2 linked regions of the Homo sapiens genome follow. The gene in region 2 interacts genetically with the main gene of each other region. Each region holds a gene or a part of one and is shown on either strand. Other genes may lie near its edges.

Region 1 (3,450 bases), on a different chromosome or scaffold from region 2:
CAGTGAGCCAAGATCGCACCACTGCACTCCAGCCTGGGCAACAGGGCCAGACTCGCTCTCAAAAAAAAAAAAAAAAAAAAAAGCAAAAAAACTTCCTCCAGGGAGGATGGACAGGGTCGGGGCCCCTCTCTGAAACCACCTGTGAGCCCTAGCAGCTGAGCTGAGCCGCTCCCCCTCCAGGGCCACCTGCATGTGGCTCCAGACGGGGCAGGGGCTCCCACGTGGGACACAGCAGCATCCCGTAAGGCGCAAAGGGACAGGAAACGCTTCTGATCCACCTCAGCTGCCCAGAGCTTCCACCTCATTGCAATCAAAACACTCGGGGCAGCTGAGACCAAGATCCGGCAGCTCCCAGGACACCGTGAAGGTCTGCGAGGACCCCCGGTTTGTCCCCTCCTTCCTGAGCACAGCGGCAGGCATGGAACACAGAGAGAAACATGAACGCCGCGGAGGGCATATCCCCAGTGGCCAAGGGCTGGCTGTCCCCTGCCAAGGCCTGAGGCACACAACACCCGCGTATCTGGAAGCCAGTATTTTATTTCTCTTGGCTGCAGAGGGCCGCTCTTGCCTAGGCGTCCACAGGCGCGACGATGGGGCTCGCGGAGGAGTCCGCAGCAGGGCACCCCACACCCGGGGGACCGGCCTCGGCGAGAAGGGCACACAGTGGAAGACCCCACCAAGCCCGGCGCCACCCAGCAGCGTGGGGACTGCCTGTCCGCCGTCCATCCCACCCTCCCCGTCCCACGACCTCCTCCTGGGCTAATGGCAGCAACAGGCAGCACCCCGCCGAATTGTCCGTGCAACTACCCGCAAACCCTCCTCCGGGCCTGAACCAGGGCTGCATTCGGGCCGCCTCTGCGCCTCGGTGGGTCCCAACCCTCACGGTGCCACAGGCCACGCTGCCTGGAGGGTCCCAGGGTCACCGACGATGCAGGGGTGAAGGTGAAGGCCAGCGTGGAGGCTGTGTAGAGAAGCAGCCCCGTCCCACACCCACCCCTGCCTGCGAACTTACGGGCCTGGCTCCAGCTCCTCCCACTCCGCCTCCAGCCTGGTGGCGCTGGGCAAGGACAGGCACCCGGGCGATGGGAGGCGCAGCGTCCACAGGAAGCGCCCCCACCGCAGGCCGAGCTCCGGCTGTCCTGGGGCCTGGCCCACCCCACTGCGCCTAGCGCAGCCCGCACTCCACGCCCTGCAGCTTCTCCTGCTCCAGGGCGCGCACGAGGTCCTGCACGAAGCGCATCTCGGAGGCTACTTGCTTGGCCAGCGCCTCGTAGCGGTTCTCCAGGCGGCTGAAGCGGCGCTTGAGGCCGCTGGTCCCCAGCAGCGCGCCCTTGGCCTCCTCCTGCGCCTGCCGCTTGAGCGCCTCGGTCTTGAGCAGCTCCTGCCGTAGCCTCCGCAGGTCCTGGCCCAGGCTGTCGCTCTCCTCGCGGTACCAGGCCTCCTTCTCCTCGTAGATGGCGGCCAGCGCCTCCACGTCCTCGTGGCAGAGCCGCCGGCTGCGCTGCAGCTCGCGCAGGCCCTCCTCGGCGGCCGCCGCCTCCTCCAGCACCTTGGAGAAGCGCTCGAAGTCGGCGTAGCTGTTGTTGGGCGGCAAGCTGGAGTGCGACTTGATGGTGTACTCCTTCAGACGCGTGGTCTTCAGGCGCCGCCGCTCGGGCTTGCGGCCGCTGTCCTCACCACGCACGTTCCGCCGCCGGATCGCCTAGGAAGGAGGGAAGCCTGAGCGGGGTCCCCGCGATGCCACCCAGCCCCGCCAGCCCCCACCTGCCAGTGTGAACTGAGGTTCAGGGGCTCATCCGGCAGCAGAGTCAACGCCTCGTGACGGAGACTGCCCAGCCCGACGCAAAGCCGAGAGTGCTCTCTCGAGAAAAACGCTGCGGCCCTGGCCCCAGGAGTCAGCCCCGTTGGACACACACCAGCCAAGGATGCCACCAGGTCTGTCGGGTGCTGGACATCCCACGCCCAGGACCCAACCCCCGCCACACAGGCTCACTCCTCTGGGGACCCTCCCCAGCCACTGGGGGTTGTCACATCCACAAGCCTTAAATGCTGAAGGCCCCCCGGGACCCCAGCGAGAAGGCCAAGGCGGGAAGCCCAGGGAGCTCCCCCACCTCCCCACTTACCTTAATCCAGGAATGTTCCAGGCTCTGGGCAATGGTCATTCTCCGCCTGGAAGACCCCCGCTCTGGTTAGGTACACCTGCACCATCTGTCCCGTCCTCCCGTGAACAACTGACTCCCGGGACCCCCAAAAGCCCTAAAGTCGCCCCCCAGCCTCTGCTCAGCCAACCACAGAAGCTGAACAAGGGTACTGCAGGGAGCGTGGGGTTTTCTGGGGGGTGGTGGAGAGAGCTGAGACCTCAGGCTGGAGTCGCAAACCCAGGCGCCCGAGAGAGGGACTGGGCGGCCATGGAGGCCCGGGGAGGCCTACGAGTGAGGGCTCAGCACTGCCAGAATTCTAAGTGTTTACAGGAAAACAAGTGACCTGGAATTTTACATGGATCCTTACTTTACACACCGGCAACTAATTAAAAGTTTGCTAAAAACACAGCAAGCAGCCAGACACGGTGTCTCACGCCCGCAATCCCAGCACTTTGGGAGACCAAGGCAGGCAAATCACAAACCAAGGAGGTCAGGAGTTCAAGACAAGCCTGGGCAACATGGTGAAGCCCTGTCTCTACTAAAAATACAAAAATTAGCCAGGCGTGGTGGCGGGCGTCTATAATCCCAGCTACTTGGGAGGCTAACGCAGGAGAATAGCCTGAACCCGGGAGGCAGAGGCTGCAGTGAGCCGAGATCACGCCACTGCACTGCACTCCAGCCTGGGAGACAGAGCAAGACTCCGTCTCAAAAAAAAAGACTCCGTCTCAAAAAAAAAAAAAAAAAAAAACCATGGCAATGGCCAGCTTGGGCCACCAGTTTATCAGTTTACTCTCTCCAGCCCAAGGGGTAAGCAATGTCTGATCCCCAGCCGCAGGGAGGTGGCGCTGGGAGGAGAGTCCTCTGGAGCCTCCGTGGGTGGAGTGGGCCTGTGTCCCATGTCCCACCCCGTGCCCCCTGCCGGCCCCTCGTACTTGGGATCTTTGACGAGCAGCCGGCGAATGAAGTCCTTGGCCAGCTCGCTGGTGTTGCTGAAGTACTCCTCGTCGAAGTCGTAGTTCACGGCTGAGATGTTGGTGAGCGTCTCCTGCTTGGTCTCGCCCAGGAACGGGGATGCACCGCTCAGGCTGCGAGACAGGCGTGGGGGCTCAGTGGGGTCCTGGGCTCCCACCACGGCCGCGCCGCCTCTCCGGCTGCCCACGACAGGCGGAGCACAGAAGACAGGCTGACGGCAGGTGCCTGGGCCACTCACACTCCTGAGCCCTTAGAACCTTCCTGCAACGATCCCAGACACCACCCAAGAGGCATTCAAAATCCACCCCCCCACCCCGCCACTGACAGCAGCAGAAAT
Region 2 (3,699 bases):
GGAAGGGCATAAGGACAAGAAAGTGGTCCCAAAACCTCTCCAAAGGTTAGTGGGGAGGTGGCTGGTTCAAGCTGTCACTTCCCAGCGGGTCAAAAGGAACAGAAGCTGAGACTCTAACACCAGCCTTCCCCACAGGGCTCCTGCGATCCCACAGAAACTTGGCCTTGGGAGAAGAGCGGAGGAGAGGGGGACGGGGGACCCTGCTCTGAAGCACTGGGGCAGGTGCGGGAAGGAGGCACTTGAGAGAGCAACCGAGTGTCTGGAGCCCATCTCCTAAACCTCACCAATGAGAGTGGGTGGGTGGCCCGAGGAGACCACCACTAAGACCCACCTCCTAAGTCTCACCAACGAGAGTGGGTGGGTGGCCCGAGGAGACCACCACTAGGACCCACCCTGCGAGGCATGGGCTGAAGTCATGCCTTCCTCCGCCTGTCTTCAATGCAGTGGAACTGCCCAGACACTTACAAGACCTGAAGCTGGGTCCCCAGTGGGGGCAGACGCTAGAGGATCTTAGGGCAGGCCACAGCCTTGAGCTACACACATGAACAGCATTTATTTTTCATGCACTCAACACATGTTCAAGCCTACGGACTCTCTGCTGGGCCCTGAGCGGGGCCCTGGGAACAGAGGTGTGAGAAACCTCTAAGCTGGTCGAGGCCAGGGCCAGTATCGTCCCCCAGCACAGAGCCTGGTGGCCGCTGTCACCTAGTGAGTGTTTGCTGAATACACAGAAGGTCATGTGGGGTGAGCAGGTTGGGCAGGGCAGCTGGAATAAGGGGTGCTGTGGCTGAGACCAAGAGGGGCTTGTCCCCACCTGGAAGCACCTCAGTCGCCGGGTTCCTGGTCCTCCTTGCTGATGGCTGCAGACTCTGGGAACAGGGAACCCCCTTCTGCCTCAGAGAACTTGCCTAGGGAGTGGAGACGGCCACCAGCCCCCTGAACAGTGGCCTCAACTCCTCCCTGTCCTGAGCCCCTGGGCTTCTGGCAGCTTGGTGCCTGCTGCCTGAGGTCAGGCTGAACGGCCTGGGACCACGTGTCTATGTCCAAGCGCCCAGAGGGCCCAGCCCTGCCCCGTGATCAGGTTAAGGCCTGGCAGGGCTGGGGAAGGGAAGGGACATGCAGCAGGAGGTCATGGGGCCCAGGAGTCTAGGAGGGACTCCCAGACCAGCATACTGGCCCCACAGGCCCCGAGCTGGGAGCCCTGAGGTCAGAGCCCCACAGAGGAGCCCGAAGCACAGTCCAGCTCAGCAGGGCCGCTTGCTGTCCAGAATGGCCTTCCAGTCGTCCGCCCACGAGTGCAGCCTGCGGCGGGGGGGCTGCAGCTGCAGGTGCTGGTTGTGGCAGGCGGTGAAGAGGACATGCTCCCAGCTGGGGGTTGGCTCGGCCCCTGTGGGTGGGAAAGCGGCATTCAGCTCAGCAGTGGAGACCTGGAGCGCAGCCGCCTAGGGTGGAAACCTGGGTATCCAGGCAGGCATCTGGCCTTGCCAAAACTTGTTTCCTCTGTAAAGGGGTGACTGCACGCACACCCGCCTTCGCAGCGGGTGTGAGGATGGCACGAGATGCGGCAAGGAGGCCGTCAGCACGCGCAGCCAGTGCTCAGTCAACAGGGACTGACTGCGGGTCACTGTCACCACCAGCACTGGCAAGGGACATGTGCCCCGCCTCCTGATGGCTTACACCACATGGTGTTCCCCCGACTTCCCTCTCCGTGCCCTGCCATCCTGATGGCTTACACCACACGGTGTTCCCCCAACTTCCCTCTCTGTGCCCCACCATCCTGATGGCCTGGTGTGGGAAGGCCAGGTGGCACCAGCTCTGCAGCTCACCAGCCGCTGATCACAGGCCCCTGCAGCCTCTCCAGGCCTCATTCCCTCGTGTCCACACTGGTGCTGCTGGTGATGCCACCCCTTTGGGTTATACACCCGCCCCCAACAACCTGTGGCTGGAGATGGAGGCCAAGCCAGCCTTTGGGCCCTCAAGGTCACGGGACCCCACAGACCACTGTCTGCCCTGACTCTGGCGGGAACCCACGAGGCTGGGGAGGGTGGGGTGGGGTGGGTACACTCGTGGAGTCCACCCTCTGGACGCAGTGATGGAGGTGGGCATGTTTCCCAAGCCAGTTCTAAAACAATCAGGGAAAAAAATAGAATGTATATTCCCACTGGGGTGTCCAAAAGACTCGACCTGAAACTACTGACGGCTACCAGGAGGAGGATGTCAAAAACCAGGCCAGGGCAGAGCCAAGAGGCAAAGAAACAACACTCACGGGCAGTTTCAACGCCTAGATTTGGCCGGCCAAAGCCCTCCTCACCCCTTTCCAGTTAGGTAAACCAAAAAACTTCCCCTCTCCTGTGCTGTGTTGTATTTTGTTTTGTTTTCTGGAGACAGGGTCTTACTCTGTCACCCAGACTGGAATGCAGTGGTGCAATCACAGCTCGCTGCAGCCTCCACCTCCCCAGCTCAGGTGATTTTCCCACCTCAGCCTCCAGAGTAGCAGGGACCACAGGCATGCGCCATGATGATCAGCTAATTTTTTTGTGTTTTTTTTTTTTTTTTTGTAGAGACAGGGAGTCTCACCATGTTGCCCAGGCTGGTCTCCAACTCCTAGGCTCAAACAATCCTTCCACTTCAGCCCCTGAAGTAGCTGGGACTACAGGCATGCACCACCATGCCCAGATAATTTTTGTATTTTTTGTAGAGAGAGTCTCGCTATGTTGGCCAGGCTGGTTTCACACTCCTGGGCTCAAGCCATCCACCCACATCAGCCTCCCAAATTACAGGCGTGAGTCACCACGCCCATCTCCCTCTCCTTTCTACGGCAGTTCAAGGTTGACTGGCTTGTTTGGTTTTGGGGAGGGGGGTCTTCTGTCCCAACCCACCTTCCCTGCAGGAGCTCTGCTCTGCCCTCCTGTCATTCATTGCATCAGTCCACATTGCTTTTGGGGGAAAAAATGGGTTTTGTTGCTAAAAACAAACATTTGGAAACCAGAGTTGAGTCCCCATGTTACATGAGGAAGACAAGGCTTTGAAGCTGAAGGGACTTCCCCAAGGCCACCCCTCAAGCTAACCCTAGAGCTGGCACCCACTCCTCCCAGCTCCCAGGAGCACCAGGCCACAGCCCATACAGAGGGGGCCTTGTCTTCCCGAAGGGGAGGGGCTCAGTGCCTGGCAAACAGCTGGTGACTAAGTGGGGCAGGAAGCAACTGAGTGCTCACTGCCCAGGAGAAGGGGGCCAAGGCTGGGGCCCTCCCCACGTGCTCCTCACCTGTCGCAGGCCACTTGCCTGTGATGTCCGGCCGGTCGTCTATGAGAAGGTCAGCAGAGACCACGGTCTTGTCTCTGGTCAGCACAATCTGCTCCAGAAAGTCAGGGCCAAAGTACTTCTCCACCCAGGCATACTGGACGCAAACAGGCAAGGGCAGGTGGTGAGAAGAAAGTGACATCAGACCTGGGAGCCAACCAAGAGCCGAGGGCAGGGGTCAGCCTAGACCTCAGCTAACAGGCAGGGAGGGATGGAGGCCTGACACCAAGGCCCAGCGCCAGGCAGTCAGTGCTGGGAGGGAGTCCAGCCCAGGACGCCAGCACTCAGGGAGCGCACATGGCTGGTCCACACTCCAGTAGCTAGAAAGCAGCAGAGTCACGACAAACCCAGCCCTGTCCCCTCTTCACACCCAGCGAACACTGCACAGCATAACCCAA

What was found.
Region 1: changes in NT5M (region 2) and DAPK3 together harm fitness less than expected from each alone (positive genetic interaction), as found in Homo sapiens cells (one large-scale study listed by BioGRID).

What each region holds. Positions count from the first base shown.
Region 1 is NC_000019.10:3,957,936-3,961,385, forward strand, and holds the end of DAPK3 (death-associated protein kinase 3), read right to left. Parts: intron 3,227-3,450; coding exon 3,074-3,226; intron 2,170-3,073; coding exon 2,124-2,169; intron 1,703-2,123; coding exon 1,166-1,702; 3' UTR 518-1,165; downstream 1-517. UniProt on the Homo sapiens protein: Serine/threonine kinase which is involved in the regulation of apoptosis, autophagy, transcription, translation and actin cytoskeleton reorganization. Involved in the regulation of smooth muscle contraction.
Region 2 is NC_000017.11:17,344,493-17,348,191, reverse strand, and holds the end of NT5M (5'(3')-deoxyribonucleotidase, mitochondrial isoform 4 precursor), read right to left. Parts: intron 3,449-3,699; coding exon of another isoform or gene 3,443-3,448; exon of another isoform or gene 3,399-3,442; coding exon 3,284-3,398; coding exon of another isoform or gene 3,266-3,283; intron 2,965-3,265; coding exon of another isoform or gene 2,880-2,964; intron 1,388-2,879; coding exon 1,245-1,387; 3' UTR 529-1,244; downstream 1-528. UniProt on the Homo sapiens protein: Dephosphorylates specifically the 5' and 2'(3')-phosphates of uracil and thymine deoxyribonucleotides, and so protects mitochondrial DNA replication from excess dTTP. Has only marginal activity towards dIMP and dGMP.